Homo sapiens: one gene and its partners. The protein of the gene in region 2 purifies or fractionates together with the protein of the main gene of each other region. This does not show direct contact. Each region holds a gene or a part of one and is shown on either strand. Other genes may lie near its edges.

Region 1 (4,176 bases), on a different chromosome or scaffold from region 2:
CCTGCCTTGGCCTCTGAAAGTGCTGGGGTCACACCACACCTGGCCTATGTATCATTTTATAAAAATTTGTTTCCTCTTTGCTCCAACTCCTAATGCAAGACTCAGCTCCCTACAGAAAGTCCCTGTAAGTAGGAAACATGCCACACATGCCCCAGATAAGGAGGACTGTCTCTCAGGAAATCAGCACACTATACATATACCTTCTTTTTAAACCTCTGCAGAGAAAGGAAAGTTTCTCACATATCATGGTGAATGCGTTCTCTGGATATTTAAGGATGAATAATAGCTTTCAGAGACTTAGTGAAAGGTGTAATTTGCTCCTCAAAAGCTCCATTTCTCTTCTCTTACCTTCTCCCTCACTTCATCTGAGGCATAGTGACCAGCAGCAAGCAGTGCCTGTCCAGATTCATCTGCAGATTTGAAGCTGTCTTCATGGGCATCAATTTCACCCTACAGGAGAAAAAAACAAAGCCATGATTTGTGCCCAGCATCTTACAAAATAAAAACAAGGTGCTGAATTTTACATAAGCATTATAAGCCAGACTATGACATCTAAAATGAGAAACAAAATGAAAGATTAGGCCAGATTTCCTAATACATAATCAGTCTAGGTCATCAAATGTGAGAGTATCACTCACTGATGAAATCCTTTCCAAATGGCTTTTCAGGTCACCTGTCATTTGTCAAGGTTCCACACATTCACATGGGTCTGAGCTCTCTTTCATTCCAGGGCTCTGTCTTCTTTGTGCCAAATGGACTTGTTTACTATGATTTTATAGAACCTGGTAGGGCGAGTCCCTCCCTGGCCCCATTATGATCTTCAACATTGTCTCAGCTTTTTTTGAATTTTTTTCTTCCAAATCAGTTTTGGAATCAGCTTATCTCATTGCAAAAAGAAACACACACATATACCTGCTGAGCACTTGACTGGAACTGCATTAACGGTATATATCCTGGTGGGAATTTACACCTTCACAGAAGATCGTTCCATCTGTGTACTAGATAAATCATTCTATCTATTCAGTTTTTATTTAATGCCTTTTAACAAAGTTTTATAGTTTTCTCCAGAAGTGTCTTACACTCTTTTGTTAGACTTATTCCTAAGTACTTTATATTTTCTGCTCTAATAAGTAGTATTTTTAAAAATTATGTTTCTGTTGCTAGTGTAGAGAAACATGTTTGACTTTCAGTATATTGATTTTGTATCTAGCACATTAAAACCTCTCAGAAGGTTTTTTTTTTTTTTTTTTTCTTTGAGACAGAGTGAAACACTCTTGTTGTCCGGACGGGAGTGGAATGGTGTGATCTTGGCTCACTGCAACCTCTGCCTCCCGGGTTCAAGCGATTCTCCTGCCTCAGACTCCTGAATAGCTGGGACTACAGGCGCGTGCCACCATGACCAGCTAACTGTTGCATTTTTAGTAGAGATGGGGTTTCACCATGTTGGCATGGATGGTCTTGATCTCTTGACCTCATGATCCACCCGCCTCAGCCTTCCAAAGTGCTGGGATTACAGACATAAGCCACCGTGCCTGGCCCAACAAATACTTTTTACATCACAAAGGATCAATGTGCCAAGTAGTAGCACTTCTATCTCGCCAGAGCTTGTCTGTTTGCTTTTATGGACCACAGTGAACCTCTTGACACTGAACCCAGTTAAGCCTCTATCAGAAGCAGGTAGACCAGGTCTCCAAAGGCAAAACCAACCATAATCCTCATGATGAGAAACACCTGTGAATAACATGGTACCAACGCCGACTATAGGCCTCACCCAACACTGATAAACTGGTGCATTATAAGCTAAAATCTTCACTTCTGGAAGATTCTAGAGATACCATTACCTTGTGCTCTTGGTGTCTATCTAGCAGGGCTTCAGCCCCAGCCACATCACTGGCAAGCTCATCTGCATTGATGAGGGCTTTCATCTCAGTCACCCAGCTGGTGAGGTCACGGAAGTCAGCAAGGAAGCGTTGAAGCCTAGGGAAAACCAAAGGAAGACATTATGTTTCCAGCGGAGGTTCCAGGGTGGAAAATGGCCTCCCTAAAGCTCTGAATTCTATGTTCTCAAATGTCTAACAAACTATATAAATTCTAATTCTGGGAAATATGAAAATTTCCCAATCTAGACTGTGAAGGAAAGCAAGAGAAGGCTGAAATCAACCCTTTAAAACTTAGGTTCTCTCCATCACTATAATGCCCCAATCCTGTCCCACATTTTCAACTTCCTTGTTATTCCCAGGTTCAACCCTTGGCTAGCAAGGATTCTTTTCCTTTCTAATCCTGGTTTTAATAAGATATTTCATGTGATACTCAGATACTTAAAGGGACATTCCCATTCTATCAATCATAATGCAGTGATGCAGAATAGAAGAATTTATGAAGTTGTAAATACCATACGTATACTACACATGATACAGTTGCCAGTCTCCAAACAGAGAGAACATAGGTAAGAAGTGATTTGCATTTGTAGGTGATACCTGACACTTTCACAGAACACAGAACAGACCCTTAACTCTGCTATTCCTGCTTCCAAAAAAGAAGCCAAATGATACTGGTTAAGACCTGGAGCATTATTTGCACCTGTATGAATCATTGAGCCGTGCATGTCTCTCTGCCGCCAAGGTGCGGATCTGCTCCCAGTTTGTAATCAGTTCCTCTCGCTTCACTTGAATCTGTGTTGCACTCAGAGGGTGGGACTGTTGCAGGCGGTCAGCCTCAGCACACAGGGCTTTGACCTAGAAATGAACTCCGTCAGAACTATTCTCCTGACCCTTGGTAACTTATTTACAGAATCAGCTGCTTGTAAAACCCACCTTGTCTTCTAGAGCAGCAAGATCTCTCTCCAGACCCTCGTGCTTCCGAAGCAGAGCCTGAACACTTGCCAGGTCTCGGCCAAAATCATCAGAGGCCATTAACTGCTCCTTTTCCTTAATCCAACTGATAGTCTCATCCACATCCCTACAGAACAAAGGCACCAGTTAATCCACAGCAATGATGACTCCCTAGAACTAGGAACACCCCATGGGACCAAGGCCTAGTCAGCCTCGACAGCTCACCAGCACATGCCCTGTGCTTCACAACTCCCCTCCAGGTTGAGACCCATTCCCCAAAGCCCACTCTGGCTTGACACCTGTTAAAGCGCTGAACTTCTGCTGCCCCAAAGAGCTTCCCCTGCCTCTGCAGAGCCAGGCCCTTCAGCCGCTGCCAGGCTGCATTGACTTCATCCTGCTTAGTCTTGATCAGTTCCTCCTCAGGGTGCTGCTCCTAAACAAGGAAGAGAAGAGACTGGATTTGTACACAACTTCTGGCTCCTCCAACTAGTTACCCTGGGGTTGGTTCCTTGAAGCATCTCAGCAAATCACCACTCTGAAGAGAATCACAAGAAATAATGGTCAACATGATACAAAGTGAACTACAACTCCAAAGAGTTTCTATTTCTTATGTAAAAAGGGGAGAGCCATTCTCTATCTTTTGGAGTAGTGTGGTTAGTCTATAAGGTGGTTATGTGCAAAAGTGCCAAAAACCTTTATGTTAATAAATAGTTTGGCAACAACTGTGTGGTAACTTTATCAATGTACTCATCTACCCTAACTGCTTGAAAATTTGGTATTTCAGATGTTCATGAGGCTGTTAAGCATTCTTGCACATAAACATAATTTTCGGGGCTCAAGAGTTTGTCCCTGGCTTTAGACTGACGACATTTCTTTTTTTCTTTTTTGAGACAGGGTCTTGCTATGTTACCCAGGCTGGTCTCAAGTGATCCTGTCTTGTCAGCCTGAGTCTGAGTAGAGTAGCTGGGTCTATAGGCAGGTGCCACTGCATCAAGCTTAGAGACATTTCTTTAAAAGTATCCTTCCCTACCAACCACATTTTGGTGTTTTAAAAAATATGATACAAAGTAATAAAATGAAGCATTTCAGGGTTCTTGAATCCATCTGGGATACCATGGGTTTGGCCTGACTACTTTTCTCAAGCTCAACCGCAGGAAAGCTTAGGGTTTGGAAAAGCAACACATCTGTCACTGTGGAAGGGTGAGATATTTCTGAGGAATGCCGGGTATCTTTCTCTTAATCACTGGCCAGAAAATGGAAACAAGTACCAGCCTATAAGCAGATTTATACACTTAAAATTTGTACCCCCCAAATCAAATTTCCCTAAAAGTAAAAACTCTCTGGT
Region 2 (4,176 bases):
CAAGGCTGAAGTGGAATAATTGGAAATTGCTTACCATGCAGACCATAACAGGAAGAAGGCTGGTGTCACTGTCCATATCAGGTGGGATAGACCAAGGCAGGAGGTGACGGGTGACGTTGCAGGGGCGAGGGCAGTGACATGGCTTCAGTACAGGCAGCACAAAGGGCAGAAGGAGGGGTGAAGTTGACAGGCCCACGCTGATGGCCGCCTCTCTCCCCAGGCAGTGGAACAGGTAGACAAGAACAGGATATAGTTTTTTTTTTTTTACAAGGTTTAACCAACTTGACCTGAGTTTTGCAAACTTCAGCGAATACTTGGAGAAATGGCATCTGTTCAAGTGGGCGTTTATTAAAGTGGACTCCACGTTGGGTCATACAGCAAGTCTCAAGGCATCTCAACAGTGGATTAAAGTGGGAATCAGTGACAGGAAAACACCCAGAGACCGTATGCTCGTTAAGTGACCTGTGTGCCAAAAAGGAAATCACTGTTGAAATGAGAAAATATTTTAAACACATTGATAATCAAAATACCACTTACCAGATGTGTGGGGTGCATCTGAAGCAGGGTTTAGAGGAAATGTGTAACTTCAAATGCATACATTAAAAGGAAGAAAGGTTGGTTGCGCACAGTGGCTTACAGCTGTAATTCCAACACTTTGGGAGGCAGGAGGATTGCTTGAACCTGCGAGATCAAGGCTGCGCTGTGGGCGAGAGGCGTGTTCCCTGCGTGGTGAGCCTGCGCCGTGCCTGGGCGAGAGGCGTGTTCCCTGCGTGGTGAGCCTGCGCCGTGCCTGGGCGAGAGGCGTGTTCCCTGCGTGGTGAGCCTGCGCCGTGCCTGGGCGAGAGGAGCACAGGGTTGCAGCCATGGCACAGATGTAACAGCTGAGCCTGTCAGGAGTCCGCTCTGCCCTGTTGGAGCTAGTCTGGCAGGAGCCTGCGGGCAGTGTCCTCTGCAGTCCAGGGCTCTCGGGAGTGGCCAGCCCTGCTCACAGACCTCATTGTGCCCTCAGCGCCAGGCTGGGTGAGCCGAGCCTGCAGGCCCAGTGCCCAGGGCCATCTCAAGGGGCAGCTGGGGGAGGGAGGCTGGGCATGAGCGGCACTCCCTCTGGGGCTGCCCAAGTTCGGTCTGTCCCAGGACCCAAGCCCGTCTGGCCGACCTGGCTCCCTGCACACTCCCTCCCTCCGTGCCCCTCCCACTGTGCCTCTCCGCCCTCGGTCGTGGCCGGTCTGAGCCTCCGCTGCGGTGGCCGTCGGATTCTCTGCTGGTGCCTGCAGGCTCCTCTGCAGACGTTGCCTCCTCCACATCTCCACGCCAGCTGTGCCACCGCTGTGCAGTCCCTGCCACCCCTGACGACAGACAGCGGCACGCAAAGAGGCTCGGGCGCAGGGGGAAGCTCGTGTTGGCCCCGGCTGGAGTGCACATCAGTCCCGGCTTCGGCCGTGGCCACCTCCGCCCAGAGCCTTGAGTGGGCATTGAGGGGGCGCTGCTCTGCGTGAGGTTGGCCACCCCTCAGGGCGGGCACAGGGTGCTCTCCCCTCGTGCAGGGAGAGGATGTTTTAGAGGGTGAGCAGGAAGGGGTGAACTAGAGGCCTTTCACACATCACAGGCATGTGTGGAGCTCAGAGAAGTGACAGTTAAAACCAGCCGTGGCTCTGACCCACACAGGCCGCCGGGCCCGTCTCCCTGCCCTCCCTCGGCGGATCCCACTCTGCTCTGGGTGTTCCTGGCCCTGCAGACACTGGCAGCCTGGGTTTCCCAGGAACTGGCCGCCACTCTTTTGTGTTTCTTCTTTATTTTCTTAGGTGTATAACATTCAACATGTAGAGATTTTAGGTGGCGTAAAATAAGACAGGCATGGGGAGCCTGCTGCCCGCTGGAGAGCCCAGGCTTATCAGTGCAGTTTATGACAGTGGGATCAGAGATGATCATAGGAAATGTGTGAAATAGCCTGGAATTCCTTAGAGAGCTGTGGGGCTGGGAAATGGTCAGTGTCAGGTCACACCTGCCTCCCCGTGCGGCCAACACCCCAAGGCGGGCCCTGCTGACCCCTGCCCCTGCTCCCCACCCACATGGCCGACACCCCAAGGTGGGCCCTGCTGACCCCTGCCCTGCTCCCCACCCGCACGGCCGACACCCCAAGGCAGGCCCTGCTGACCTCTGCCCTGCTCCCCACAGCTCAGCCTGGGCTGCCTCCCCAGCCCCACAGTGAACACAGCTTTGTTTCCCCCGGAATCATGTTCCCAATTCCCTGGCAGCCGGATTCTAGAGGTCTTGGTTTTATGGGCATCTGTTGACAGTTGTGGATTTTTGTCAGGGCGGACGTCGTCATTTTTATGGAAAACACATTTAGTATCCCAGAGTGCGTGCTCTGAGCTGCCGGGTGGCTGCAGTCTGTGTGTGCTGGGTAGTGAGGGCCAGCGCCTGCCTTGGAACCCTGGGGTCCCACCTCAGAGCTGCCTGCCTGGGTGCCGGAGTCTCCAGCTGTGGGATGTTGTCCCGTCTGCTCTGAGCACGTGGCCTCCCCTGGAGTTGCAGGAAACATGGCGGCCCCGCCCGGTGCCCCTCTGCCTTGAACACAGTCGCGGGCATCCCCACTGTGACGTCCGAGGAGCGAGTGAAATGATGCTCTTCTGGGGCCGTGACCGGGGGTGCTGGTGCCCTGTGGGTTCCTGGGACAGCTGCTGGGTCAGCTCACAGGGCTCCAGCTTCCGCAGGCGGGGGTGGCCGGCTGCCCTGGTTGTTCTCGCCCCGCTGCCTGCAGCTGCCACCTGTTTCCATGCACGTTTCTTTAGTGAATGTCCAAGGACTTACAGACTACTTGGGTGGCCTTCCTAAGTGGTGTCTACTTGTAACCGCAGGTATGACCTGGACGCGTGTGACATTCAAGAAAAATACCCGGATTTATTTCAAGTGAACCTGGAAGTGGAGGTGGAGCCCAGGGACAGGCCGAGCCGGGAAGCCCCACCATGGGAGAACTCGAGCATGAGGGGGCTGAACCCCAAAATCCTGTTTTCCAGCCGGGAGGAGCAGCAAGACATTCTGTCTAAGTTTGGTAAGATCCCGCAGGTGAATTAGGTGAACCCTGTTCTGGTGAGTGTCTCTGTGGAGAGAGACACCTTTGGCTGAGCTCTGGCAGGGCTGGGCCCCACGCCTGCTGCTGCACCCAGGCCCTGAGCAGCTTGGGCTGCAGGAGGTTTTGGAAACTCCGTCGTGGATGTTGGACACCACCACCAGCTACACCAGAGAAGGACTCGCAGGCTGCAATTTCTGAGGCCCATGGGCAGGGACGGAGGCAGAGGGAGGAAAACCCAGGCTCCTGGAGCGAAGCGGGGTTTTGTCCCAGGCGTGTGTCTGGGTCAGATTTTTGTCATGTGTGCTGGACACACGTCCACTCTCACTGTGAGCCTCAGGCCTGCTGGCAGCATGTGGAACAGAACCCTCGCTCCTGTCGCTCTTCACTTCCGAGCAGTTTCGAAACGGCAGCCCAGGAAGTGCTGGCAGGTGGGCCCAGGGCCGTCCACTGCTCATGCCACGCTTGTTCTCGGCTCTTGGTTTGCAGTGTTTGCTTTTTCTTTCTGAGCATCTTCAGCGTCCCTGAAAGAGGCTGTATGTGTGACCTGTGCGTGCTGTGTATGTGTCCGTGGGTGGTGTGTGCCGTGTGTGTGTGTGCACGAGTGGTGTGTGCATTCATGTGTACTGTGTATCTGTGTGCTGTGTGCATTCGTGTGTACAGTGCATCTGTGTGTGCTGTGTGTGCGTTCGTGTGTACCATGCATCGGTATGTGCTGTGTGTGCGTTCGTGTGTACCGTCCATTTGTGTGTGTGCATGCATGTGTACTGTGCATCCGAGTGTGTGCATGTGTGTGTACCGTGCATCTGTGTGCGTGCATTCATGTGTACCCTGCATCTATGTGTGCTGTGTGCATTCATGTGTACTGTGCCTGTGTGTGTGCATTTGTGTGTACCATGCATCTCTGCTGTGTGTGCATTCGTGTGTACTGTGCATCTGTGTGTACTGTGTGCATTCATGTGTACTGTGCATCTGTGTGTGCTGTGTGTGCATTCATGTGTACCCTGCATGTGTGTATGTGCTGTGTGTGCATTCGTGTGTACTGTGCATCTGTGTGTGTGCATTCATGTGTACCCTGCATGTGTGTATGTGCTGTGTGTGCATTC
Region 3 (4,176 bases), on a different chromosome or scaffold from region 2:
CTGTTAAGTACTTGAAGTGTGGCTTCACAATTCAAGTGTGACTGAGAAACTGAATTTTAAATTTTCTTTAATTTTAATAAATTTACATTGAAGTAGCCACATGTAGCTAGTAGCTACCATATTGGACAGTGGAGCTGTAGGAAGATGAAAATAGGTCCTAACAGCTTTGGTCCTTGCTTGTTCTTTGTGTCTCTTGAGTATGCTTAGAGGCAAGATTTAGCTGGTCTTAGTACTGCTGTAGTATTTTTCATGTTACAGAACCCAAATTTATCTTTTCTGTTTTACCAAGCTCTAGCAGTTTTTCTTCTCCATGGAGAGAGTCTACTTTGGTGTCTGGAAAGATTTAATTTTTCAATTATGAAATTGGGTACTTGGGGAATACTCTTATGAGCTGTTTTCTTAATTCAAAGTGCTTTTTTTGAGAGAAGTACAACATTTGGCCTTGCATTCCAACTGAATTGAATTCACTTGGTTCATGAACAAGGTGTTCCTTCAATTTCACCTTTTTTCCTTGCAAAAACTGTGAGAAAGCACGCGATGCTAAAAATAGAGAACCGGTGCCAGTGGTTTTCAGCCTAGCTGCTGGCTACATTCTCAAGTAATTTTCTTTTCTCTGACCAGTAACGAGGGTGGCCAGAAGGGAAGGCACCTGTGAATGTGCTTTGCTCTCTAAGGGGACTCTTCCTCTTCATCCTCTGAGGGGAAGAATTCTAAATTAGTATTGCAGTGGCACTAAAGCTGCAAAAGCCAGAAGACCAATTTAAATGTACTATTTTATGCAGTAACCACAGTCTGTTCAGGAGGTCACCATTTTTATTTAATTTCATTTTTCAGAGATAAATTTTATATTTTAGTCCTAATGTATAGTAAATGTTAACATCAAAATACATTGAAAGAAAATACTGTCCAATCAAAAAGGTAATTATTTGGAAGTAATTTCACCATGATTGAAAAGGGGGCCTTACATTTTGAATTAGGTATTGTCACATGGCACTTCCAGCCCACAGCTTCTCATTGCAGCATAGCTAAATCTTGCATTCCACATCTGTACTTCATGCCATGGATAGACACATATTAGATGTTTACTGTAGAGGCTAGGTGGTGTGGCTCAGGTCTGTAATCCCAGCACTTTAGGAGGCTGAGGTGGGAGGATCACTTGAGCTCAGGAGTTCAAGACCAGCCTGGGCACCATAGTGAGACCCTATCTCTACTAAAAAAAAAAAATTAGCTGGGGGTTGTGGTGCACGCTTGTGGTCCCAGCTGCTTAGGAGATTGAGGTGGGAGGATCACTTGAGCCTGGGAGATTGAGGCTGCAGTGAGCTGTGATAGAACTACTGCAGTACAGCCTGGGCTACAGAGCGAGACCCTATCTCAAATAAAACAAAAAAAAGTTTACTGTATATACTTTAGAGTCATCAGTGAAAAATCTGAGAAAATGATTCTTCTGAACGACAGATCACCTTCCGACAAATTAGATACCGAGATGAACGTTCCTACTAACCTGAAACTTGGGGGAGTTTCTAGCTGCTATTAGGCTTTTTCTTATAGTTACACACAGCCTTTTGCAGGTTGTTACTATAAGACCTTTCTTGCAAAGGCCCTAAAAATGCCCAAGAATACTTCATTTTTCATCCCTTCTAGTAGTTACTTGACACCGCTACTGCTATCTACTCTCCTTCTCAAAGACACTAATTACAGTTTGGGCTCTTGGTCTGCACTTTCAAAACTCTGTCCAGATCACTGGTGGTCACGTTTTGTGATTATTTCTAGGCTTGCCTCCCTTTCTGTCCCTCCCTTTGGAGGAAGCATAATGAGGTAAGCAAAGTGTAAGCTTTACAGCCAGATCTGGGTTTGAATCTTGGCTCTGTCACTTACTATAACCTTTAGGAAATTCACTCAAACTTTCTGAGCTTTAGTTTTTCTCACTGCTGAAAATGTGATCAGAGTTTACCTTCTTGGGATTGTTGTAAAGATTGAGTTAGATGTCTATAAAACACCTGCCAGACAGAAGAACTTGTTTAAAGTGAAGTATCAGGTTAACTTCAAGTGTCAGCTGCCTCAGTAGCTATGACATGTATTTCTTTTTTTTTTTTTTCTTTTTTGAGACAGAGTCTCACTTTGTTGCCTAGGCTGGAGTGCAGTGGTGCGATCTCAGCTCACTGCAACCTCTGCCTCCCAGATTCAAGCGATTCTCCTGCCTCAGCCTCCCCAGTAATCCCCAGTAGCTGGGATTATAGGCATGCACCACCACATCCAGCTAATTTTTTGTATTTTTAGTAGAGACGGGATTTTACCATGTTGGCCAGGCTGGTCTCGAACTCCTAACCTCAGATGATCCACCTGCCTCGGCCTCCCAAAGTGTTGGGATTACAGGCGTGAGCCACCACAAGCAGCCGGCATGTATTTCTTTATCTCTCACTATCTACTGATGTATGTCTCTTCAGCTTAGTGTCTTAGAGAAAACCATATTTAGTCCTCAGAAACTTCATGTTTCATGTTTGAGAATCCAATCTAGCAAACCTGCTAGGTATGCATTTTCTTGCTGTCATTTCTAGAACCTTTAGGTTAACTGTTAGCAATGATCCCATACCTCTACCCCCTGCACTTCTCTCCAGTGGAGTTTCTTTTGTAGCTCTGCCCTGGCTCTGCCACAAACACACTGCAGACCAAGTAGGAGTAGATGCTTTGTGGTCCTCTCTAGTGCTAATATTCTGTGTTCTATCATTCTCTGGTTCCTGAATCATCTCTACCTTTGGTAATTGTCCTAATAGCACCCTGCCTCACAGAAGTGCTTCTACCATATTTAGTTATGAGAGTGCCACCTTGTGTTCCACAAAACCATTGTCAAACCTGGAATATGGACTAGTTTGGGAGAAGAGGTAAAAGATTAAGATGAATACCCTACTATGAACTAATATTGGCAGCATTGGTAAAGAATCATCTATAATTGTTTCTCCCCCAATTGGTGCCCAGAAGGCTTTTTTCCTATTAATAATAGAAGTCAGTATTTCCACATACACCCTTCTCTTTTGCTCTGCCCAAAACAAGACAAAACAAAACTAATGACCCACTAAGATGTCAGTGGACTGGGATAAGACCAGGAATAGGACTGTGGGAAAGACCAGGCAGGAATAGAAGCACTGAAATCAGAGTTGGTTGTGCAAACAGAGAAAACAGAAGTTTATCTTCCCCTCTCTACTCTTCTCCCCCAACAGGCACACAGACATGGACCTGCACCCACCACAAGTTCAGCAAGACCAAAATAAACTGATGAACTTCAGTTTGCACTTTGCCTCAATTGTATTGTCTTTCTCTTCTCTCCCTTCAAAGATGCCAATTCTCGGAAGCAAGAAGCAGAGTGGAAAGAAAAGGCAATAAAGGAGCTAGAAGAATGGTATGCAAGACAGGACGAGCAGCTACAGAAAACAAAAGCAAACAACAGGTCAGTCCGTGGTGGTTGTAGCACACTTTGTTTTCCAAAATTGAATCAAATCCATTCTCAGCATCCAGTCTCGGTTTTTGGCTTCTGCCTCCTTTAGTGTGAAATGTCTGCAGTTTTTAAAGAAAGTGCTTGAAACAGGTTGCAAGTCTCTCGGGTCTTGTGAGCATAATTCACCCTATTGTTTAGCCATCCCAATTGTAGTGAGCTTAGCTCTCTGAGAGTTTGGTTAATATGCATAACCTGTAATGGTGTGATTCAGCCAAGGGAAAAGTTACTTTCCATGGAACCCTGAAACGAAAGCTGGGTGTCATGAATACACCCAGATCTAGTTACTTTGGATATGATTATAGACTTGGTCATGTTGAGTCTCCTCAATATAGCCCTGCCCCCTGAAAGCCACTTCATGAAGGGGTCCGTTGGCAGGAATATGTGCTTTGTAATTAGGCAGCCAAGGATGTTCCAACATGATTATTTTAGAATTGAGGGTTCTGTGGGTACTTATTTGTGCCTTAAAAAGTCTTGAATTGACTTCTTAAAAATGTTCTGTTTGAAATAGATTTTATTTAGTTACTGATGGTTAAGGAGTTGTGAGGAGAAAAACGCTTTCATTCTCATATCACTACTCACCAGCAGCTGGGCTTTAATGCCCTACACTTAGAGCCCTTCTTGGAAGCAGCAAAGAGAGGATATGTGGTGTTGCTTCCCTCAGGGCAGGCAGGTTCAGAGCCCAACTT
Region 4 (4,176 bases), on a different chromosome or scaffold from region 2:
CCCTAGTCTCTTGAGCCAAGTTGCAAAAGTACAAAAAATAGGGCCAGGTGCGGTGCCTCAGACCTGTAATCCCAGCACTTCGGGAGTACGAGGCAGGCGGATCACCTGAGGTCAGGAGTTTGAGACCAGTCTGGCCAACATGGTGAAAACCTGTCTCTACTAAAAATACAAAAATTTAGCTACTCAGAAGACTGATGCAGGAGAATCGCTTGAATCCAGGAGGTGGAAGTTGCAGTGAGCCAAGATCGCACCACTGCACTTCAGCCTGGGCAACACAGCGAGACTTCATTTCAAAAAAACAAACAAACAAACAAACACAAAAAAACAAAAACAAAAAATAGTCTGTGATGATTTGTCCTAAGGCTACATGCTGAGGAGACATCCATTAGTCTCTATGACCAGAGCTACTCTAGTGCTGTCTGTCTAAAGTCTTCTCTTGATCAGTCTTTTCCTCAGGTCTCTGAGCTATCCTATCCAATAATTTGTTTTGTTGCTTAGGGTAGCCGATAAGTCTTTGTTGCTTATAATAATAATAATAATAAACCTTCATGCAGTACTTTTAAATGTTTGGGAGAAATCACTTTGAAACAAATAGATACGTTTGTACATACTGGAAAAACTGCAAATATCTGTTCTTCTGGTGGAAATTATTTCAATATTTGTGTCTATTTGGCTTCATCTACCAGGAGGCACCAGTGATATATTAAGAAAAGGACCCTGGATGTGACTGCATGACTCTCTAGATACGTCACATCACCTTCCCGACCTTAATTTTCTCATCTATAAATAACTTGACTAAGTTATTCAAGGTCCCTTCCAGCTTGAAAATCCGGTAATTCCATGGTTGTCTCTTTCCAAGGGCTTCCGTGTCAAAGGAGAGTTCAGGGTTTTCTCTCTTCCTCTGTCAATTCAGAGGGGCCCCGTGGATAAGGTAGAAGTTACAGTGCTACCACCAGCAGAAGACAGTGCTGATTTCAGGGGAAATGAATAAGCAGGCACAGAGAGGAACACTTGGTTTTAAAAATTCTGTCAGTTTAGAAGTAGGGAGTAGCAAATCCAGCCTCAAACACAGAGATCCAATTGTCTCTTCAGTTTGCATAGCTACACCCAGTGTCTGATACAGAATGCCCTGGTGTGTGTCCACTCCCTGGACTGCCTGGGGAGCTGGCCCGATTATACTGCCGTCGGCCGTCACATTGCATTACACTTAGGATATAATAATACAGACACTCCACACTCAGAGCGGGAGAGGAAGACTCTTAACACACTGCTACGATTTATAGTGAGAATCTAAGAAAGGATAGCCACATAAGAGAAAGCCATTTCACTCAAGAGTTTTTCCAAACCTTATCCTTTTTGCTCAGCTAGCGTATCCACTTTCGTTAACAGATGGGCAAAATGTATTCTAAACAAGAAAAGAAGGGGTTTAATGGCTTACAAGATCATGGGCTTGCTGCCTACCATTGGGGTCACCCAGACATACTCTAAGAAATATGTGTATTAGTGCTGGTTTGACTGCTCCCTCATTTTGTCATTTCACTAAATCTCACGGGACCCACGGGGGAAGTAATTGCCTTCTGGACTCACTCAAGCACAAAAGCATCCCTGATAGCTGCGAGCAGCCCAGCTAGGGCTGGTAAGCATTTTTTTGTTTGTCTAAATAAAACATTCTTTTCTTTATATTTTGTCTGCTAGACTTCTGGCCCTTTTAGAAATTCATGTCCTAGCTGGATCTTCAGTCTGATTGAAGGCCACTTTTCTTTCCCATCCCCCAGTCCCAGAGCCAAAGTCTGAATGTGAGATATTATGACTAACAGACCCTGCACAGGGTAGCTGGAGTCGTAAAATTAACCTCTCAGTGTATTGTCCATGATTGGCCATAAACTGGCCCTTTTACCTACATCGAGGGCAGTGTGAGAAAGATGTCTCTTCAGAAGCCATCTAGAAATGAATCACTTCCAGCACCACAGCTAATACGTTAATGAGTCCCCAAAGAATATAAATTCAGAAGCTGCCCTGAAAAGCTGCTTAGCAGCTCAGCTGAGAAGAATAATCCCTAGTTTTATGGAAGATGTGTGATAATGAGAGGGTGAAAAGACAGAGTGAACTGGGTCACTATACGCATTACTTACCTTGCTCAATTATTTTTACTTTTCTGGTCCCACTCCCCCTCCATCACCACTCCCATCACACAGCAAAAACAAGCACTTCATACAGGATGTGGAACTTTGATCTCAGCTTTTTCACAACTGTATGTTTGTTTTCACAGAAGAGGAACCACCACCCACCTGAGTTTTTGTCCGGCAGTCGGTTTATCCTCCACACAATGGAGTTGAAGGCATGCTCGTACTTGGCAGTTCCCAGAGTTACTCTCATGACAGGCTCAGAGCCAGAAACACTAGTGGAGCCAAAACTTGCCCCCCGGTTCACTTTGGCTTTCAAAGACTTTTCCCCCAGGACACTTTCCCTGCGGAAGTTTTTCACCCACTCACTGGGCACAGGGTAACGGATCATCACATTCTCACAGGGAACCTGAGTGAGGGGGTCACGATTGGCGGAGAAGCCAGTTGACATCCTCAGCCAGCTCTGCACCTCCACCTCTGCCCCATTGACACTTGTGGCCGTCCTGAGTGTGAAAGGCAAGGTCTTCTCAGCAAACACTGTCCTGAACCGCATTAGCTCAAACCGGCACGCATCCAAAGGGTTGAACAGAATGACCCGTGAGTTGTGGAAAACATCCTCATCCACACACCCATGGAAACGGCACTCATGGAGCTTGATCCACTTTGTGGTGGTGGTGGGCATGATGTCCTGCCTCAAAACTATTTCATTCCCTTTGACGAGGATGTCATTGAGGCCCAGGCGGCACTCTGCGAGCCCAGACAGGAAACTCAGGATGTGGATCCGTGTCAAGACATGGTGCTGGAGAATCTGGTTGTCTCCTTTGCTCACAATGCCAGAGAATTCATCTCTGACATCCACTGTAATCTCCTCTTCAAGGTAGTTGAGGCCAACTGTGCTCAAGTCCATTGACAACACTGGCAGATCCATGAGACGGTCCTGAACTGCATGGATGAAACTCAGGAAGTCATCGTAATTGGTGGTGCCCAGCTTAATCACCTGTTCCCTCTCTGCTGTGTGGGCCACAGCAGGTTTGGGCTGGTATTTCTTCTTCTCTTTATAGGTGACACGGTCTATCCGCAAGCTGTGGATTCTGCCATTCTCATCATAGTTTTGAAGCCGGGGTTCTGAAATCTCATGACAGATCTCCAGCTTGAACTCACGGAATGGTTTTTCTAGGCCCTGCTCATAATACAGCTGCAGGTAACCAGTGTCTGTCAGTTTGACGAAGATCGGTCCCCAGTGCCTGGAGGACATGATGTTTTTCTTCTCAGGGATCCTCAACATCATTGGCCACCCGTCACGAGGCTGGGACCGTGCTGATCCAGGCGGGTGAGCATCTAGTTCAATCCAGGCTACTGGGTCATCATCAGGTAGAGTTGCACTGCCAAAGTGATCAGGGTCATCAATTTGGAGTTGTTTGAGTTTTTCAACAGCATCAGAGTGTGACTGGGTTTTGCTTGAATCATCAAAACTGATGGCATCCTGGTAGATGACAATGAGGGAATCTCTTTGGCTTTTGCCCGTGGTACTGGAAATGGAACTGTTTTGGGAGCGCCTCTCCTGCTCCTCAAAGAAAGCACTGAAAGGGTTGATAGGGGAGGGCTGTACATCCTGCAGAGTCTCATTCAGGAAAGGGTTGGTTGCCCTCCAAGGTGAAGCCTCAGTTACAGAAGGCGTGCGGTTTAAAGAGGAAATATCCAGCTTCTGAACTTTGGAGAAGTTCATCAAAGTGCTCTTGGGACGGTCCCTCTTCTTAAATGATCCCATTGAATTATAAGGTACATCTGGGATCACAGATGCACTTGGTGGTGTATTTGGCTTCAGAGGAGAGGTGACTGGTGGTAAAGGGCAGCTGACTTCATTGTCATCAAAGGTGACCCAGCTGGGAAAACGAGCAGAGGTCACTGGAGGGGCAGGGTGCCCATTCATGGCTGGACTGCTGGCCTGCCAGCTGATGGCCTCCATCTCTACTTCTTCATCTTCTTGAAGCGAGGAGGAATTGTCTAAAAGGAAAAGGAGAACATATGAGCTACTGTTCAGGGGCTCTAGAGG
Region 5 (4,176 bases), on a different chromosome or scaffold from region 2:
AGCTACTTGGGAAGCTGAGGCAGAAGAATCGCTTGAACCCAGGAGGCAGAGGTTCAGTGAGCCGAGATCGTGCCATTGCACTCCAGCCTGGGCAACAAGAGCAAGACTCTGTCTCAAAAAAAAAAAAAAAAAAAAAAAAACTATTTTTTTTTAAGGACTGCTTTTTTTTCTTCTTTTTTCTAATACAACTGTAACACCATTATCATAAGAGAGGAAAAAATAACAATAGTTTCTTATTATCAAATATCCATTAGTGTTTAACTGTTTCTGATATCTCATAATTAAGTTGGCTTGTTTGAATCAGTATCCAATACTAACAGATTGTATTTAGTTGGTCTATATTGTTTTCCATTATCTTTTCATATATTTTTTTCACATTTTTTACTATGAATGTATTCATTTTATAATGATGAGTATATCTGTTTTTTTGGAGGTATGGTCTTGCTCTGTTTCCCAGGCTGGAGTGAAGTGGTGCAGTTATAGCTCACTGCAGCCTCCAGTTCCTGGGCTCAAGTGATCATCCCAGCTGAGTCTCTCAAGTAGCTAGGACTATAAGCATGTGCCACCATGCCTGGCTAATTTTTATTGGTAGAAATGGGGGTCTCGTTATTTTGCCCAGGCTGGTCTCAAACTCCCGGCCTCAAGCCATCCTCCCACCTCAGCCTCCCAAATCATCGGAATTACACACATTAGCCTATGCGGCTGCTGGCTGATATATCTTTTAAGTCCCCTTTTATCCATAGGTTCCCTCTCCTCTTTTTTTTTTTTTTTTTGCTTTTTGTCATTTAATTTTTCGGAGAAACTGGATTATTTGTCCCTTGGAATTTTTGGCATTCTGGGTTTAGCTGATTGCATGCTATGGTGTCATTTGATGTGTCTGACCGTCTTCCGTGTACACTGGTAATTTCTCGAGGCTTACTCAGTATTTGATTCAGTTTGACAATTCTTTGTTCTTCCTGTTGCATCATGTCAGGAGGTCTGTAATGTCTCTCTGGCCTCTATTTCACTGATATTAAGATCAGGGAGCGTGTACTTTCAGATTTCCCTGAAGACTGCGTTTCCCAAAAATATTTTTAAAAAAAGGAAGAAAAAAAGATCAATCGGTGTATTGAGGTGTTGTCTGTCTGATCCATTTGTTTAATGTTCCCCATTAGCTTAGCAGGTATCACTGATCATTTGCCAAGTTCCTTAATTCATCAGGGATGGCACAGTGATATTCTAACATTCCCTCTTCATTTGAGGGCTGGACGTTTTCCATGAAGAAATTTTTTCATCAGCTCTTTAGCTACCCTGAGGTACTGTTTGTACAGAAAAGGCAGGAAAAACACTTGATTCTTTCCTTTTGTTTACTGGTTTTCAGAGTAATAAATTTGTTCCCTCTTGTCATCCAAAGGTGAACAGTGACGTTTTTGTTTTGTTTAGTTTAGTTAGTATCATTAGGAATTCTTAGATTTTAACATATTTGATATCTTTGAATACATTGCTTTTTTTGTTTTGTTTTTACTAGAGGTGGGGCCTTGCTGTGTTGCCCAGGCTGGAGTGCAGTGGCTATTCACAAGCAGGATCCCACTACTAATCAGCCCTGGAGTTTTGACCTGCTCCGTTTCTAATCTGCGCTGGTTCAACCCTCCTTAGGCTACTGGTCCCCTGCTCCCGGGAGGTCCTCATACTGATGCTGACCTTAGTGCAGACACCCAACTAGCATAGCATACTACAACCCTTGACTTCCTGGGCTCAAGCGATCCTCCCGCCTCAGCCTTCCGAGTAGCTGGGACTACAGGTGCACACCACCATGCCTGGCATATTGCAGTTTTAAAAAATGTATTTATTTTAAAGCTCAGATTGCCCCAACTTTGGCCAGTGGAAGTCTCTTCAAATTGGCTCCTAAATCCTTTGAATGTAACTCCAGTGGTCTTTAATGATTTCCTTGCTATCTAGGATCATGCTGCCCTCTAGGATCATGCTGCCCTCAACTTGAAATCATCCATTTTTCTTAGGAGCTCTGTTTCTTTTTAGTGCAAATAATGTTTAGAAACCACAGTTTTGATGCTAGAAATACCATTTGCCTAATGGATTGCTTGTTGTTTCTAGGCCTTCTCAGTGGACAATTAGAAAATATATTTTGTTTTGTTTTGTTGGAGAATAGGCATTATGAATTCGGATTTATATTCCTAATTTGGATTTGTAATTACTGGATTTCTGTTTAACTTCTTGGATTTTGTTGTTTTTTTTTTTTTCTGGAAATCTTGATTCTTAACAGCATTAACATAGATAATTAATTGTTCTATCGTTTTAAGATAGCAATAACCATATGATTACTGAAAACAGTTTAAGATTTCCTTGCCCATTTTACCCTTAGAATGTTTAGCACATTATTTTCTGGCGCGTTCAGCTACCAATTTGATACACCGGTTTATATGCATTGTTTTGCTTTTGATTTTTAGTTATTGCTTTTTAAATTTTAGTTTAATTCTGTTTTGTGGATATGTGAAACATTTACATAGTTTCAGAGTTAAATCTGCAAAAGTCCATCCCCACCAACCCATATATAGTGGTATTGCTCATTCTTATTTACAACTTGAGAGTATTCTATTAGATATTTCCTTCAGGATATATCTATCATAAATATTTAATCAGCCAGTCTCCTGTTGATAGACATTTGGGTTGTTTCCAGTATTTTGCTGTTATAAGTAGGCAGCTATTTTTTTTTTTTGACATCTTCTAATTTGTTAACCCTTTAACTTTGCCCCAGTAGACAAACAGTATCCTCCCAATTGACTCTAATAACTACGTAAAGTATACGGGATGTTCAAAGATACAGTGTTGACCTTAGTTCATCAGCAGGCCCTTATTTTGAGCTCTGTTTGTGTATGTAGCACATAGCCCCTAACAGTGGGGATTAGAGAGACATATAAGAAGTGTGGGCCAGATACAGTGGCTCATGCTTGTAATCTCAGCATCTTCAGAGGCCGAAGCGGGAGGATTGCTTGAGCCCAGGAGGTCGAGACAGCCTGGGCAACATTGTGAGACTGTGTCTCTACAAAAAATAAGAAAAAAAATTAGCCAGGCATGGTAGTGTGCACCTGTGATACCAGGTACTTAGGAGGCTGAGGTGGAATGATCACTTGAGCCCAGGAGGTCAAGGGTGCAGTGAGCCGAGATTGCTTGCACCACTACATCCCAGCCTGGGCAACACAGCAAGACACTATCTCAAACAAACAAACAAAAGGAAGCGTCATAGAGCACACTGGCTATTTTGAATGTTTAAGGAAGTTTAATAAAAATGGAGCTCTTGGGAAATAATTTTTAGTAAGACTTGAGATGAGTCTTAATAGTTGAGTTAACATTTAGGTTATTCTTTTCAGTGTCATCATTGCTTCATCCTGTTCAGGTAGGGAAGCATTTTAATCTTGGCTACTTCAAATCCCTTTATAAGAAGGATTACCTCTATGATTAGGAGATCGTTTATTAGCTCCTGCTATACTCTAGCTTATGGAGTCACATGATGTTTAGTCAGATAGCTTCCCTTAGGCAAGGCCCAGAAACCCACTTGGAAGGCCAGTCTGTAGTGCAGGAGGCAGCCTGGTGCAATGGATGGAGCCTAGCAGTGTAAGGGACTGCTGCTGTGTTGTATTTTAATTCCCTGAGGTCTCTATCATGAGATTTTAGGCCTAGCCTCAAGACTTTTCTACTTGCCCTTGCCTTTGGCTTTAGCACTGGTCTTCATTGTTTTTGAGACATTTGTCTTTTGTGACTATTATTCTGGGACAGGCCCTTATTCATCTCCTCATTTCTTGCTCAGTTTCAGGCAGTACATCCAGCAACCCAGAAACCAGCAATTGCTCAGTTCCCTGTGGTGTCCCAAGGAGGCTCTCAACAGCAGCTAATGCAGAATTTCTACCAGCAGCAGCAGCAGCAGCAACAACAACAGCAACAGCAACAGCTGGCCACAGCCCTGCATCAACAACAGCTGATGACTCAGCAGGCTGCCTTGCAGCAAAAGCCCACTATGGCAGCAGGACAGCAGCCCCAGCCACAGCCAGCTGCAGCCCCACAGCCAGCCCCTGCCCAGGAGCCAGCGGTAAGAATCAACCAGAGCTCAGAGCACAAAAGCAGCAGAGGAATGTGCAGCGAGAGCTAGGGGAAGGGTGGGAAAGATGGCAGCAGCTGATGAGG
Region 6 (4,077 bases), on a different chromosome or scaffold from region 2:
AAGTCGGCCGGGTGCAGTGGCTCACGCCTGTAATCCTGGCACTTTGGGAGGCCAAGGTGGGTGGATCACTTGAGGTCAGGAGTTCGAGACCAGCCTGACCAACATGGCAAAACCCCGTCTCGCTGGGCATGGTGGCTCACGCCTGTAATCCCAGCACTTTGGGAGGCCGAGGTGGGCGGATCACGAGGTCGGGAGATCGAGACCATGGTGAAACCCCGTCTCTATTAAAAATACAAAATTTAGCCGGGCGCGGTGGCGGGCGCCTGTAGTCACAGCTACTCAGGAGGCTGAGGCAGGAGAATGGCGTGAACGCAGGAGGCGGAGCTTGCAGTGAGCCGACATCGTGCCACTGCACTCCAGCCTGAGTGACAGAGCGAGACTCCGTCTCAAAAAAAAAAAAAAAAAAAACCCGTCTCAGCCGGGCGCGGTGGCTCACGCCTGTAATCCCAGCACTTTGGGAGGCCGAGGTGGGCAGATCATGAGGTCAGGAGATTGAGACCATCCTGGCTAACATGGTGAAACCCCGTCTCTAATAAAAATACAAAAATAAGCTGGGCGTGGTGGCAGGCGCCTGTAGTCCCAGCTACTCAGGAGGCTGAGGCAGGAGAATGGCGTGAACCCGGGAGGCAGAGCTTGCAGTGAGCTGAGATTGCACCACTGCACTCCAGCCTGGGCTACTGAGTGAGATTCCGTCTCAAAAAAAAAAAAAAAAAAAAAAAAAAAAAAAACCATCTCTACTAAAAATACAAAAAGTAGCTGGGTGTGGTGGTGTGTGCCTGTAATCCCAGCTACTTGGGAGGCTGAGGCAGAATCACTTGAACCCAAGAGGTGGAGGTTGCAGTGAGCCGAGATCATGCCACTGCACTCTAGCCTGGGCAACAGAGAGAGACACTGTCTCAAAAAAATTATATATATAAATGTATATATTAATATATAAATGTATATGTTTAAACATATATGTTCACATATACGTAAATTTAAAAGTCAAATATGTTTAGCACCCACTCAAGGAGATACTCCCACTAAACAAAAGAGTCTGTGCCAAAAGGTGACAAGCGGGGTACTGAGTAACCCGGTGGTCAAGAATGGCCTGGAAAAAATGAAGAAAGTCAAAAAAAGAAAAGCCATTAGCCTTGAATCCTAGAACATCTTTTTTACAGAACAGAATTTTAATAACTAGGATTTCACTTCTCTTTCTATGGCTCAGTGGTAAATGTTTTTTCATTATTATAGTATGTCTACCAACCTATGGCCCACGCATGGAGGCTTTGTGATAGTTACAGAAACCTTTACGACATAATAAAAATAATGTAACTGACCAAATTGAGATGGAAGATGAGGGAGGAGGCAAAAGAGAGAGAAGCGAGGCCCATTCTCCTCATCTTCCATGCGGGAAGGCAAGAAACAATCTCTAAAGCTGTCAAGTGAAAAAAAAAAATTCAAGCATACCATTTAAAGTCATCAAGGTGCTCACTAAATTCAAGCATACCATTTAAAGTCATCAAGGTGCTCACCGGAAGAACCAAGTACGTATAATTAACAAAACCACCAGGATATGAGGTCAGTGCGTCTGGGTGGTGGTGATCCTGGTGGCGGTGAGCGGTGACGGTGTGTTGGTGAAGCTGACGGTGACAGTGGTGATGCTAATGGTGGTGATGATGGTGGCCACGGTGGTGGTGGTAGTGGTGGTGGTGATGGTGGTGACGACAGTGAGTGGTGAAGGTGATGGTGATGATGGTGGTGACGACAGTGAGTGGTGAAGGTGATGGTGATGATGGTGGTGACGACAGTGAGTGGTGAAGGTGGTGGTGATGATGGTGGTGACGACAGTGAGTGGTGAAGGTGGTGGTGATGATGGTGGTGACGACAGTGAGTGGTGAAGGTGGTGGTGATGGTGGTGACGACAGTGAGTGGTGAAGGTGATGGTGATGATGGTGGTGACGACAGTGAGTGGTGAAGGTGGTGGTGATGATGGTGGTGACGACAGTGAGTGGTGAAGGTGATGGTGATGATGGTGGTGACGACAGTGAGTGGTGAAGGTGGTGGTGATGATGGTGGTGACGACAGTGAGTGGTGAAGGTGGTGGTGATGATGGTGGTGACGACAGTGAGTGGTGAAGGTGATGGTGATGATGGTGGTGACGACAGTGAGTGGTGAAGGTGGTGGTGATGATGGTGGTGACGACAGTGAGTGGTGAAGGTGGTGGTGATGATGGTGGTGACGACAGTGAGTGGTGAAGGTGGTGGTGATGATGGTGGTGACGACAGTGAGTGGTGAAGGTGGTGGTGATGATGGTGATGGTGATGGTGGTGGTGATGACAGTGAGTGGTGAGGGTCATGGTGATGGTGTGATGGTGGTGGTGATGGTGATGGGGTGATGGTGATGATGGTGGTGATGATGGTGGTGAGGGTCATGGTGATGGTGTGATGGTGGTGATGATGGTGGTGAGGTCTGGGGACAGCCAGAGGTTCTTTTTGCATTTCTGACCAGCTCCTGGTGGAGGGTGATGCTGCTGGCCCCACGCACAACTTTGGGCATCAAGAGTTGAGAGTGCCCCGTGCAAGGCCGGGCGCGGTGGCTCACGCCTGTAATCCCAGCACTTTGGGAGGCCGAGGCGGGCGGATCACGAGGTCAGTAGATCGAGACCATCCTGGCTAACATGGTGAAACCCCGTCTCCACTAAAAATATTTTTTAAAAAATTAGCCGGGCGTGGTGGCAGGCGCCTGTAGTCCCAGCTACTTGGGAGGCTGAGGCAGGAGAATGGCGTGAACCCGGGAGGCGGAGCTTGCCGTGAGCCGAGATCGTGCCACTGCACTCCAGCCCAGGAGACACAGCGAGATGCCGTCTCAAAAAAGAGAGTGCCCCGCGCAGTGTCATCAGCACAGTGACCGCAGCGAGCCCGGGCCTTTCTGTGGAGGCAGAAGAGCGCCCAGAACAGCACAAGGGACGCATCTGTGGAGCGAGTAATCCTCAAAATGACCACAAGATGGCATCACCGCCCCATGCTCCAAATAAGGAAACTGAGGCCTGGAGCTGGTCCCATAGTCCCTGCTGACCCAGCCACGAGTGGCAGAGTGGGGACCCTCACTCAGGCCTATCAGATCCCAAGGCCCCCACTCTGTTCCCTCCTGTTTCCCTACCCACTTTGGGAACGCCCTCTGGGCAGAGAACAGGGCTGGGAGCCTGTCAGCTCCTGGTCAGCTGACCTTGATGTAGGCGAGAGGGACAGGCCACAGACTTGGCAAGGCGCTAATGGTGCAAGAGCCCAGGACGCCATGAGGCCAGAGAGACAGGGCATGGACTCACACGAACGACGCGGATGCTGCTGCGGGCAGCGTCCAGGGTGTCGTAGAAGGCCCGCACCACCTCCTGGAACTCCCCGGTGTTCTCTGCCAGACGCTCCAGGTTGTTCCAGGGCCCCTTCAGCGTCTGCCCCGCCACTGATGCATGGGGAAAAGCGGGGGGTCAGAGCCATGCCTGGGGCACTAGCCCCTGCTAACCAGCCCACCCCACCGTCCCTCAGTCCAGGAGGTAGACTCACAGGTAGGGCCTGAAGCTGCCAAGGGAAAGGCCAAACTCTGATCCCAGGGGCCAGCCAGAAGTGCCACCAAGTGGCGGGCAGCACGGGCAGGGTGGGCCCCGAAGCCACGGAGGATGGTGCAGTCACCACGCAGGGCAACACTCACACCATGGCACCGCTCCAGGCGAGCACGCAGCTCTGCAGGCAGTGTGCGGCGCCAGGGCCCCACCGTCTCCTCCTGGACGTGGACCTCCAAGGCAGCCCTGAGCGCCCGGTCCAGCTCCTCCACATCCTGCTCAAAGGCCGAGTGCACCACCAGCTGGGCCTTGCCATCAGTCCCCCCATCTGGGGGCTCTTCTGCCTCCAACGGGGGCTGCTCCAGCAGGGAGAGGGTTAGGGCTTGCCGCAGGGCAGCAGCCTCCTCCTGCTCAGCCACCTGACCTTGAGGCTCCAGTGACCGGTGGAGGGCCAGCTGCAGAGCGGCCTCCTCCTCCAGCCACCTGGGTGCCACAGTGCTGGGGGCCACAGGCTCCTCCTCCTCATGCCCTGGGGTCA
Region 7 (4,176 bases), on a different chromosome or scaffold from region 2:
ACAGCAGGTGGGATTAGGACATCCCAGAATCCACTGTGAGTAGAATCTCATAAGATTAAACCCGGGTTTTTTAGGAAAAAATAATCACATCGATTCTCGCATTTTATAGACAAAAATACATTGCAGAAAGAGGAGTGGCTGCCTCGAGCCACTCACCTGGACACTCAGTTTTGCTCTCACAGCAGCAGCCAAGGAATAAACCTCTAGGCCCGTGCTCTGTGTTTAAAGCAAACAAAAGCTTTTGAGGATGATAAGGATCTTCCCGGGGAAGGCCATGTCTTGAGAGATGAGGTAGGACCCCAGTTCTGGCAGCAGAGTTTCAGGAGGTGCTTGGAAGTTTGCGTGTTCTGGCCGTGGTTGCAGGTGTCGCTGTGTCTGCTGTGGCTGTGCAGCTGGTAGGACCCAGTGGAAGATAATGCCAGTGCACAGATCAGAGGAAGATGCTCTGCCTGTTCTCCTTTCAGTCCATATAAAATAGAGCTGTGAACATTCTTTGTTTTCAGATGAGAGCCTAAAACCTCCATGAAGCCTTTGCTGCTGTTCCTAGTAAATAGCTTGACTTAAAATACATTGATCAGTGTTTTCTTCTTTTTTTTTTTGAGACAGTTTCACTCTGTCGCCCAGGCTGGAGTGTTGTGGCTTGAACAAGGCTCACTGCAGCCTCAACCTCCCTGGCTCAAGCGATCTTCCCACCTCAGCCTCCCGAGTAGTTGGGACTACAGGCACGCACCACCACGACCGGCATTTTTTTTTTGGTGATGGGGTATCGCTGTGTGTTGCCCAGGCTGGTCTCAAACTGCTGAACTCGAGTGGTCCTCCTACCTCCCAAAGTGCTCGGCTTACAGGTGTGAGCCACTGCACCTGGCCAGTGTTTTCTTCTTTTATCTGAATATCAGAAAGATTTCCAAGAGACCAAAATAATATACATCTGCAAAGATGTGTGGATTGGCCAGGCACGGTGGCTCACGCCTGTAATCCCAGCACTTTGGGAGGCCGAGGCGGGTGGATTATGAGGTCAGGAGATCAAGACCATCCTGGCTAACATGGTGAAACCCCATCTCTACTGAAAAGACAAAAAATTAGCCTGGCATGGTGGCAGGTGCCTGTAGTCCCAGCTGCTCAGGAGGCTGAGGCAGGAGAATGGCATGAACCTGGGAGGCGGAGCTTGCAGTGAGCCGAGATCGCACCACTGCACCCCAGTCTGGGCGACAGAGCAAGACTCCGTCTCAAAAAAAAAAATGTGTGGATTAAACTACAGAGTCCTCCCCTTTGGTTTAATTTTTCCTTTGATTGGCTAAACTTATCTGTTTGTTCATGAGGGTGGTGCTGACAAGAAGAAAGACTGATAGAAAGAAAAGAACTTTCCTAAAGATATAGTCCTTGAATTTTTGCCTTAAGAGGCCAGGTTAACTATTCAAGTTTGTATCTACTATGTTTTATTTAAAAACTGATGGAGGTTTTTGCCCCTTTCTTTTCTGTAAGAGGTTTCTTGGCAATTCTGCCTGTTGTTGAAAGTGTTGGAATCCAGTCTGTGCCTTGTAAAGCTGCTTTAAGTTTCCTGGGAGTTTCCATTCCAGGCACAGTTACGGCTCCAGTTCAAAGGTAACATCTTGCTGGTGGTCCTTTCAGACCTTAAGCCAGTCACAGTACAAAAACGGAGACCTATGAAGAGGTGTGATAAAAGGCATTTAGATGAATATATTTATTTTGCAGTGCTTTTTAAAAAAATGATTGTGTCACTTTTTATTTATTTATTTTTTTAAAATAGAGACCGTCTTGCTCTGTTGCCCAGGCTGGACCGCGGTGGTATAATCATAGCTCACTGCAGCCTCGAACTCATGGACACAAGTGATCTTCCTTCCTTAACCCCCTGAGTCCCTGGGACTACAGGTGTGTGCCACCATGTCTGGCTAACTTTCTTCTTTTGTAGAGACAAGGTCTTGCTATGTTGCCCAGGCTGGTCTCGACCTCCTGGGCTCTGGCAGTCCTTCCACCTTGACCTCCCAAAGTGCTGGGATTACAGGCATGAGCCACTGCACCCAGCCTATTTTGCAGCTTTTATAACTATACTTCATAATGCTCTTTCATCAAAGAAAATGGAAGAATGAATTTTAAACTTTTGTATCCCTTTTGAAATTTAAAATTAACATGTATGGAAAGTATGATATAAAGTTTTCCTTTTTTTTTTTTTTTTTTGAGCTAGGGACTCACTGTGTCACCCAGGCTGAAGGGTAGTGGTGCTGTCATAGCTCACGACAGCCTCAACCTCCCAGGCTGACGCAATCCTCCTGCCTCAGCCTCCTGAGTAGTTGGGACTACAGGTGTGCACCACCATGCCTGGCTGATTTTTGTATTTTTTGTAGAAACGAGATCCCCCTGTTGCTCAGGCTGGCCTCGAATTCCTGGGCTCAAGTGGTCCTCCCGCCTTGGCCTCTTAAAGTGTTGGGAGTACAGGCGTAAGCCACCATATCTGGCCAGTTTTTCTTTCTTAATAGAAGAGTTGGCTCTTCCTGGATCTAGGGATGGTTTACAGGAAAACATTGAGTATCTGTGGGTCTGGTAGCATATCACAGCAGTGGTCAGGTTCCGCACTGTCCCTGTTGTTGTGGCGCGGGTCTGCGGCAGCAATGGGCCCTGTGAGTAGAGGATCCCAGGGGAGGGAGTGGCCATCTAGACATACTCCATCAGCTCGCAGCCAGGCCATCCAGGGTTCTCACTCTGTCCCCTGCCCCCCAGAACAGTTCCTCAGGGACAGGTGTTCTCTGCTGGGGTGGGGTGTAGGGGAGAGAGAGTCCTTGGGATTTAAGTGACATAAAATCATGTTCAATGTTTCTCTTTTTCCTTAGTTTTCCTGATTGCAGCTAGGACTTTGAATATATGGATTTTATGCTGATTTTCTCTTTTTCTTTTCCAGCTCCAATTAAGGAACAGCTATATCCTGCTTCCTTCTGTAAGCAGCATCGACTTGTGCAAGGGTTCAGTCATGCAGCCACCGCCCCAGACGGTCCCGTCTGGCATGGCTGGGCCACCTCCAGCCGGGAATCCTCGGAGCGTGTTCTGGGCTAGCAGCCCTTACAGGAGACGGGCTAATAATAATGCAGCAGTGGCTCCGACAACTTGCCCGTTGCAGCCGGTCACGGATCCATTTGCTTTTAGTAGACAGGCGCTCCAAAGTACACCACTGGGCAGTTCGTCCAAAAGCAGTCCACCTGTCTTGCAAGGCCCAGCCCCCGCAGGGTTTTCTCAGCACCCCGGTTTGCTTGTTCCTCACACACATGCCAGAGATAGCTCTCAGGGACCCTGTGAGCCCCTGCCTGGACCTCTGACACAGCCCAGAGCACATGCCAGTCCGTTTTCTGGTGCATTGACACCTTCAGCACCTCCTGGGCCTGAGATGAACAGGAGTGCAGAGGTCGGTCCCAGTTCAGAGCCTGAAGTTCAGACTCTGCCATATCTTCCTCACTACATTCCAGGAGTGGATCCTGAAACGTCTCATGGGGGCCACCCTCATGGGAACATGCCTGGGCTCGACCGACCCCTGAGCAGGCAAAACCCACATGACGGTGTGGTCACCCCAGCAGCATCCCCTTCCCTCCCTCAGCCTGGTCTGCAGATGCCAGGACAGTGGGGGCCAGTGCAGGGAGGCCCACAGCCCTCGGGGCAACATCGTTCACCCTGCCCTGAAGGACCTGTTCCCAGCGGGGTGCCCTGTGCCACCAGCGTTCCTCATTTCCCCACCCCGTCCATCCTACATCAGGGCCCTGGTCATGAGCAACACAGCCCTCTGGTGGCTCCCCCAGCAGCCTTGCCCAGTGACGGAAGAGACGAGGTGAGCCACTTGCAAAGTGGAAGCCACCTGGCCAATAACTCTGATCCTGAAAGTACATTCAGGCAAAATCCCAGAATTGTGAATCACTGGGCAAGCCCAGAGCTCAGGCAGAATCCAGGAGTGAAGAATGAGCACCGGCCCGCCTCTGCTCTTGTGAACCCCCTCGCCCGGGGAGATAGCCCAGAAAACCGTACGCACCACCCACTGGGGGCTGGGGCCGGGTCTGGCTGTGCCCCGCTAGAAGCAGACTCAGGAGCTTCAGGAGCTCTGGCGATGTTTTTCCAAGGGGGAGAGACAGAAAATGAGGAGAATCTCTCATCTGAAAAAGCAGGCTTATCTGGTCAAGC

What was found.
Region 1: the proteins of GAK (region 2) and SPTAN1 purify together in Homo sapiens (affinity purification with mass spectrometry; one large-scale study listed by BioGRID and IntAct). This does not show direct contact.
Region 3: the proteins of GAK (region 2) and CLTA purify together in Homo sapiens (affinity purification with mass spectrometry; 2 studies listed by BioGRID and IntAct, with this or other methods). This does not show direct contact.
Region 4: the proteins of GAK (region 2) and STON2 purify together in Homo sapiens (affinity purification with mass spectrometry; one large-scale study listed by BioGRID and IntAct). This does not show direct contact.
Region 5: the proteins of GAK (region 2) and AAK1 purify together in Homo sapiens (affinity purification with mass spectrometry; one large-scale study listed by BioGRID and IntAct). This does not show direct contact.
Region 6: the proteins of GAK (region 2) and PARP10 purify together in Homo sapiens (affinity purification with mass spectrometry, with the first as the bait; one large-scale study listed by BioGRID). This does not show direct contact.
Region 7: the proteins of GAK (region 2) and SEC16A purify together in Homo sapiens (affinity purification with mass spectrometry; one large-scale study listed by BioGRID and IntAct). This does not show direct contact.

Annotation. Positions count from the first base shown.
Region 1 is NC_000009.12:128,575,911-128,580,086, reverse strand, and holds part of SPTAN1 (spectrin alpha chain, non-erythrocytic 1), read right to left. Parts: intron 3,265-4,176; coding exon 3,131-3,264; intron 2,959-3,130; coding exon 2,814-2,958; intron 2,736-2,813; coding exon 2,581-2,735; intron 1,978-2,580; coding exon 1,842-1,977; intron 451-1,841; coding exon 349-450; intron 1-348. UniProt on the Homo sapiens protein: Fodrin, which seems to be involved in secretion, interacts with calmodulin in a calcium-dependent manner and is thus candidate for the calcium-dependent movement of the cytoskeleton at the membrane.
Region 2 is NC_000004.12:869,587-873,762, reverse strand, and holds part of GAK (cyclin-G-associated kinase), read left to right. Parts: exon of another isoform or gene 1-462; intron 463-537; exon of another isoform or gene 538-695; intron 696-2,858; coding exon 2,859-3,052; intron 3,053-4,176. UniProt on the Homo sapiens protein: Associates with cyclin G and CDK5. Seems to act as an auxilin homolog that is involved in the uncoating of clathrin-coated vesicles by Hsc70 in non-neuronal cells. Expression oscillates slightly during the cell cycle, peaking at G1.
Region 3 is NC_000009.12:36,200,738-36,204,913, forward strand, and holds part of CLTA (clathrin light chain A), read left to right. Parts: intron 1-3,330; coding exon 3,331-3,442; intron 3,443-3,983; exon of another isoform or gene 3,984-4,176. UniProt on the Homo sapiens protein: Clathrin is the major protein of the polyhedral coat of coated pits and vesicles.
Region 4 is NC_000014.9:81,274,613-81,278,788, forward strand, and holds part of STON2 (stonin-2), read right to left. Parts: intron 4,128-4,176; coding exon 2,289-4,127; intron 1-2,288. UniProt on the Homo sapiens protein: Adapter protein involved in endocytic machinery. Involved in the synaptic vesicle recycling. May facilitate clathrin-coated vesicle uncoating.
Region 5 is NC_000002.12:69,514,376-69,518,551, reverse strand, and holds part of AAK1 (AP2-associated protein kinase 1), read left to right. Parts: intron 1-1,505; exon of another isoform or gene 1,506-1,801; intron 1,802-3,802; coding exon 3,803-4,081; intron 4,082-4,176.
Region 6 is NC_000008.11:143,979,624-143,983,700, forward strand, and holds part of PARP10 (protein mono-ADP-ribosyltransferase PARP10), read right to left. Parts: coding exon 3,544-4,077; intron 3,443-3,543; coding exon 3,309-3,442; intron 1-3,308. UniProt on the Homo sapiens protein: ADP-ribosyltransferase that mediates mono-ADP-ribosylation of glutamate and aspartate residues on target proteins. In contrast to PARP1 and PARP2, it is not able to mediate poly-ADP-ribosylation.
Region 7 is NC_000009.12:136,476,423-136,480,598, reverse strand, and holds part of SEC16A (protein transport protein Sec16A), read left to right. Parts: intron 1-1,768; 5' UTR 1,769-1,890; intron 1,891-2,914; 5' UTR 2,915-2,983; coding exon 2,984-4,176. UniProt on the Homo sapiens protein: Acts as a molecular scaffold that plays a key role in the organization of the endoplasmic reticulum exit sites (ERES), also known as transitional endoplasmic reticulum (tER).